Linked DNA regions of Homo sapiens. The gene in region 2 interacts genetically with the main gene of each other region. Each region holds a gene or a part of one and is shown on either strand. Other genes may lie near its edges.

The links. A genetic interaction does not mean that the proteins touch.
Region 1: changes in KAT7 (region 2) and KAT6A together harm fitness more than expected from each alone (negative genetic interaction), as found in Homo sapiens cells (one large-scale study listed by BioGRID).

Annotation. Positions count from the first base shown.
Region 1 is NC_000008.11:41,929,988-41,933,487, reverse strand, and holds part of KAT6A (histone acetyltransferase KAT6A), read left to right. Parts: coding exon 1-1,283; 3' UTR 1,284-3,500. UniProt on the Homo sapiens protein: Histone acetyltransferase that acetylates lysine residues in histone H3 and histone H4 (in vitro). Component of the MOZ/MORF complex which has a histone H3 acetyltransferase activity. May act as a transcriptional coactivator for RUNX1 and RUNX2.
Region 2 is NC_000017.11:49,830,181-49,833,680, reverse strand, and holds part of KAT7 (histone acetyltransferase KAT7), read right to left. Parts: 3' UTR 1-3,500. UniProt on the Homo sapiens protein: Catalytic subunit of histone acetyltransferase HBO1 complexes, which specifically mediate acetylation of histone H3 at 'Lys-14' (H3K14ac), thereby regulating various processes, such as gene transcription, protein ubiquitination, immune regulation, stem cell pluripotent and self-renewal maintenance and embryonic development.

The DNA.
Region 1 (3,500 bases), on a different chromosome or scaffold from region 2:
GTGGGAACAGCTCTTCCCAGAGCAGCTGCTCCTACGGTGGGCTGTCGTCCTCCAGCAGCCTCACCCAGAGCAGCTGTGTGGTCACTCAGCAGATGGCCAGCATGGGCAGCAGCTGCAGCATGATGCAGCAGAGCAGCGTCCAGCCTGCTGCCAACTGCAGCATCAAGTCACCTCAGAGCTGCGTGGTGGAGAGGCCTCCCAGTAACCAGCAGCAGCAGCCGCCACCACCGCCTCCACAGCAGCCACAGCCGCCGCCGCCACAACCACAACCAGCACCACAGCCTCCACCACCCCAGCAGCAGCCGCAACAGCAGCCGCAGCCTCAGCCCCAGCAGCCTCCACCCCCACCCCCTCCCCAGCAGCAGCCCCCGCTGTCACAGTGTAGTATGAATAACAGTTTCACCCCAGCTCCTATGATCATGGAGATACCAGAATCTGGAAGCACTGGGAACATAAGTATCTATGAGAGGATTCCAGGGGATTTTGGTGCCGGCAGCTACTCTCAACCATCAGCCACCTTCAGCCTAGCCAAGCTGCAGCAGCTGACCAACACCATTATGGACCCTCATGCCATGCCTTATAGCCATTCTCCTGCTGTGACTTCCTATGCAACCAGTGTTTCTCTGTCCAATACAGGACTGGCTCAGCTGGCTCCATCTCATCCCTTAGCTGGGACTCCTCAAGCACAAGCCACCATGACGCCACCCCCAAACTTGGCATCCACTACCATGAACCTCACATCTCCTCTGCTTCAGTGCAACATGTCTGCCACCAACATTGGCATTCCTCACACGCAGAGATTGCAAGGGCAAATGCCAGTGAAGGGGCACATTTCCATCCGCTCCAAGTCTGCGCCACTGCCCTCTGCGGCTGCTCACCAGCAGCAGCTGTATGGCCGTAGCCCATCGGCAGTTGCCATGCAGGCTGGCCCTCGCGCACTGGCTGTTCAGCGTGGCATGAACATGGGGGTTAATCTGATGCCTACTCCCGCCTATAATGTCAATTCCATGAATATGAACACCTTGAATGCCATGAACAGCTATCGAATGACACAGCCCATGATGAACAGCAGTTACCATAGTAACCCTGCCTACATGAACCAGACAGCACAGTATCCTATGCAGATGCAGATGGGAATGATGGGGAGCCAGGCCTATACCCAGCAGCCTATGCAGCCTAACCCTCATGGGAACATGATGTACACAGGCCCCTCCCATCACAGCTACATGAACGCTGCTGGCGTGCCCAAGCAGTCACTCAACGGACCTTACATGAGAAGATGAGCAAGATGAACTTGCAATCAAAAACTTAAATATATATAAATAAAGGAACCTTTTATACTGACAAACCAGAGAAAAATGGACCTTTTTCCAGTTAAAATATTGCTGTAGATTTAGAGGAATTTTTCTTTGGTTTATTTTATTTTTTAGAAAACCTGATCTTCTCTTTTTTTGGGTTCATTTTGTTCTGGGTTTTGGTTTTCTTCACAATCTTGAACATTTTACAGTAGAACTCATCTAAAAATGGATTTGGGGATGGGGAAACATGCACAAAATCTTTTCATAATTAAAAAGAGCCTTACTTTCTTTACATACCACATGGACAGAATTTGTGTAAAAGTGAATTATCTTTATTTTAAAATGTATGTTTCCCCTCACTGTTTGCAGCTCCCAATGTTGTCATTTTTAAATGTTATATACATCTCAAGGGTTAACCAGACCCTTTCCTCCAAACCCAACCTTTCATTTCCTACTTCATTCCAGCAGGAGGCACTTAGGGGAGACTCGGATGGGGACATGGAGAACAACCCAAGCTCCTTAAACTTATTATTATTGTTAATATTATTATTATTATTATTAATAAAGTGAGGCAGGAAAATGCTTCTCCTTTTAAAATCCCCTCCACTCCTCACACACACACACCTCTTGAAACCCTTCCCCAAGAATGTTTCTTTATAGACGGACTTCATTGAAATCTTTGTTGTTCTTGAATCAAGTGTAATATAATTTTTTTCTTCTTTTTTAAAATATTCCCACTCAGCACTCAGAGACACAAAAATACTGTAAGTCTCAATTAACAGCAGAATCTCAGAGAAAAGCTGTTTGCAATCCAAATCCAGCCTTTGGAGGAATAGAGATGGTCAATTAACAATCAAAAAGAGGAGATTAACCTCTTGTTTTTTTACCACCTGGTGAATCAGCCATAACGCACACACACGCCACCCAGCCTCTTGTTTCTAGTATGTACTTTGAAATGCTAACTGAGGGTCTTGATGCTTGAGCCTTTGACTGATAAAACTCAAATAGCAGTCCCCAGTGATTTGCCTCTTAGGTTCTTTCTTAAATTGTTGGTGGATGACTGTACATTTTAGTGATTTGAAAAATAACTGACAAACCATTGAAACAGTTTATTTTATGTTGGAAGAGATGGCGCAGATGTGTGTCAGAAGGGAGATCACGGTGTGAGTTTCGTAGCTATTTAAGTGATACATACCTCTAGTTTTTGTATGTCTTTTGAGATCCTGAGTTCATCCCCTGTGAATCAGAGTGCACAAGCACCTCTCCTGTGAGTGGCTAATGAGAAGAGGGACAGACCGACCACCAGCACAGTAGGGCAGATCTGGACAGCAGAATGTTATAACGCAAGTTCATGTGTTGCTCCCAACTCCATTCTCTTTTCTCTCGTGCAACCAGTTTGCCCATTCTCTTCCTATTACTTGCTCCAGGGATAGGTAAAAAAAAAAAAAAAAAAAAAAAAAATATATATATATATATATACACACACACACACACACACACACACACATATATATATATATATATTCCATCATTAGAAGATGGAAACTATTATACCACTTGGTATGTGCAGTCAAATATCCAAAAGGGGGAAGTACTGCTTAGAGAAATATCTGTAAGCATTAAATTCTCTCCTTTATTTGTACATTTTATATAGATAAATTTTTAAAGTACTAATTAGGCATTAACTTTTTTCAAATGCACAGGTTTGTTGGTTTTTTTAATACACTTTAATTGACTTTCTCAAGCGTGCTAGGTAGAAACGCAGAATTCCACATCTTCCCGCTCTCAGCTCTGAGCATGTGCAAGGCTGTGTAGGACCCAGTTTCTCTGTATATACTATTCCAGTTCCCAGTCATCTATGTAGAAAGTGCACTGTGCTGCCATCGCCCTACATCTTCAGCTGTGTCATTGCTTCCTGGTTGGGGTGGGGACGGGGTGGGTCGGGAGGGAGGTATATTGGGAGGAGGGTGGGTCAAGGCAGAAGGAGAAGCTGTTGAAATGAGGGCCGTGAAATCAGTTTCTGTTGGTTTGCGGTTGTGTTTGGTTTTGTTTGTTTCTTTATAAAAAATTCAATCGGGCAGCTCCCTTTTCCACAAGCCTCTTTGTGACTGTAGAACTATTGTAGAAAAAAAAAGTTCTTTTCTATATTATAAAAGAAATTATCCAACACAGTAATATTGGTACCTGTCATTTTTTCACTTC
Region 2 (3,500 bases):
CAAGTCTGGGCTTTTAGTGCTGTGACTAGAGCACCTTGGTTCTCCTATGCATCGTCTCTCACCATTCAGTAATTTAGCCCAAGCTTCTCGTTTGGAAACGTGTCAGCTTATTTTCAAGAGCAAAAGTGGAAGCTGCCAAAATATCACTTCCATATCCTATTAGTCAAAACAAGTCACAAGTTCAGCCCTCACTGTAGAAAAAAATAGACCTTATTGGAAATAGCACGTGCACAGAGGATGAGAGCAACTGTTGGTGGCCATCTTTGGAGATGATCTACCACACCTCTAAATTTGTGAGATAAGAGTGTAGGTTTCTGATAACTTTGGAATTGAATGTATGGTAAGCTGTTTGCAGAAACAAATGTCCAATTAAGAACAAAGACTGGTTTCTTGGAATGAACATGACTTGTCGAGGATAAAGATGTTTATATCTCACATGGAACATTTGTGAGGAGCCATGGAGCCAGAGTTGTACAATAGTACAGGTTATTTTCTCCATTCTTGGGCACAAGTAAACAAATCCGCAAACCCCCAAATGGTAACAACATGACCTGGACTTAAAGGTATTGCACAAGAGGTTAGGGGCAAACTGATGTTTTGGCACCAGGGACATTTCTCATCGCTGGGCAATCCTTTGTTTCCTTCTTGGTGACATTCATTGGGATTTTGTTGCAGATACCACACAGGAAGAAGGCTATTAAACTGCCCCTATCAGCAGGAAACAGTCTGGAGGAGGCAGTCACACATAATTTTGTGAAAGAAAGTGCTGAGGCAAAACCAGCTGAGGTCCGATTCCATGATCCCAATGAACAGCAAAGCAAAGGGTGGCTTCTAGAAGTCCTAGCACACATCACATACTATCATTCAGCAAAGTAGTTTTCATATTTTATTCTCATGACATTCAACACTTTGATATGCTGTACATATGTGCACCTGTGAGACACAAGAGGTAGAGGAAACTAATGCTGAGAGCCTCAGTGAGCCAGGCCTTCTCCCTGCTGCCATTCTTTTCACTTGATGGGATTGGTTATTTGAGCTTGAGCACACTAAACTAGTTGAGGGTTGTATGGTAAAAGGATTCCTGCTGTCTCACTGGGGCTTTTTCTCAAACCAGGGTTTCTTAACTCCATGTCCAAGAATGGACTTCAACGGCACAATTTCCTCAACTATAGACAAATGTGTGCATATTTACAAGGGTGATTTTTAAAAATCCAGTGCTTTAATTAGAGTCTCAAGGACAGAAGAAAAAAGTGGTAAAAGGATCATGGCTGAGCTGTGCTGCTTGATCCTGGTACAGCTCGAGACTTTGTTTTGACCCACCCCACCCAGAACTATAGGGACAAATCAGTACAAATCAAAGTTGAGGACAAGTCAAAAGCATCACCTTGTCATTTAAAGGTTATACCACACTGTTAAAAGTTACTTGGCTGGGCGCAGTGGCTCCTGCCTGTAATCCCAGCACTTTGGGAGGCTGAGGTGAGTGGATCACCTGAGGTCAGGAGTTCAAGACCAACCTAGCCAACAGGGCAAAACCTCATCTCTACTAAAAATACAAAAATTAGCCAGGCGAGGTGGTGGGCACCTGTAATCCCAGCTACTTGGGAGGCTGAGGCAGGAAAATCGCTTGAACCTGGGAGGCAGAGGTTGCAATGAGCCTAGATCACGCCACTGCACTCCAGCATAGGTGACAGAGTGAGACGTCGTCTTAAAAAAAAAAAAAATGGCTGGGTGCAATGGCTCACGCCTGTAATCCCAGCACTTTGGGAGGCTGAGGCGAGTGGATCACGAGGTCAGGAGATCGAGATCATCCTGGCTAACACGGTGAAACCTCATTCTACTAAAAATACAAAAAATTAGCTGGGCGTGGTGGTGGGCACCTGTAGTCCCAGCTACTCGGGAGACTGAAGCAGAAGAATGGCATGAACCCGGGAGGCAGAGCTTGCAGTGAGCCAAGATCGCACCACTGCACTCCAGCCTGGGTGACAGAACGAAACTCCGTCTCAAAAAAAAAAATTACTTAATATGACTCATTATCCCCAGATAAGAAATGGGAAAATAGCATGGAAGCATCAGGTGACCAGACCTCATAACAATGCCAAAAGTATGGGATTTGGACTCAGGGAAGCAAGGCTCTCTCATTCTATTGCTATGACACAGCAGCAAGACCACTATGAGCCTCAATTTTTCATCTAGAAGAAGACTATAATATCCACCTTACTGTGCTGTGGTGAGGAATGAAGAAAACCATGGAAGTAAAGGGACAGTGCTTACTGAACAGTTTATTCCTAAATCAGAAACAATGCCAGAATGAGGCACATCTTTTGCTTCCTGGTTTAGCTCTGTAGCCCCCTAAACTTGCTGCTTCTAAAGCCAACTAACATCAATCAATTCTGTTTTTTGTTTTTGAGACAGGGTCTCACTCTGTCACCCAGGCTGGAGTGCAGTGGCATCATCTCAGCTCATTGCAACTTCTGCCTCCCAGGTTCAGGCGATTCTCGTGCCTCAGCCTCCCAAGTAGCTGAGACTACAGGCATGTGCCCACGTCTGATTTTTCTATTTTTTGTAGAGCTGGGGTTTCACCATGCTGCCCAGGCTAGTCTCGAATTCCTGGACTCAAGCGATCTGCCCGCCTTGGCCTCCCAAAGTGCTGAGATTACAGACTATTACAGAGCTATCACAGCTGGCTTAAAAATCAGTCCTTTTTACTGTAATGAGTTAATTTGGTTAATAATTAAAAAATAATAAGAAAAAATATAAAAAGAAAATCCTTTTGCCTGAAAGTTTTCACCAGTTTCATTATTATCCTTGTAATGGAAGCCATTAGAAACAAATCCAACTAGAAGGGAGAGGATGATTCATCATTAAGGAATCAAAAATAGTGGAAGAAAACGGTAGAGGGGAGGGTGCAGGCTATCAAGGTAGACAGACCAGAATTGAAGTTTCTGGCTTTGCTGCTTACTTCCACCTTGGATTCCAGGTCTCCTTTGGCAAACCAGTGTACCCATCTACTGTACAGGGCTAATATGAGGGTCAAATGAGGCAGTATGAAGGTACAGTGACAACCATATGGGAAGCAACCAATAGAGTAGGTACTTCCATTGAGCAGGTTTCAGGAATAATTTCAGACTTTTGCTCTTCTAATAAAGGAGCTTAAGCAGCTAAGCTTCTGTTATGCAGATAAGAGGGAGTTAAAAGCTGGGTGCAGAGGCTCACGGCTGTAATCCCAGCACTTTGGGAGGATGAGGCGGGTGATCACTTGAGGTCAAGAGTTTGAGACTGGCCTGGCCAACATGGCAAAACCCTGTCTCTACTAAACATACAAAAATTAGCCAGGTGGCCTGCACCTGTAATCCCAGCTACTTGAGAGGCTGAGGCAGGAGAATCACTGGAATCCAGGAGGCAGACATTGCAGTGAGCTGAGATCATGCCACTGCATTCCGGACTGGATGATAGAGTGAGACTGTCTTTTTTTAAAAAAAAAAAAAAAAAAAAAAAAAAAA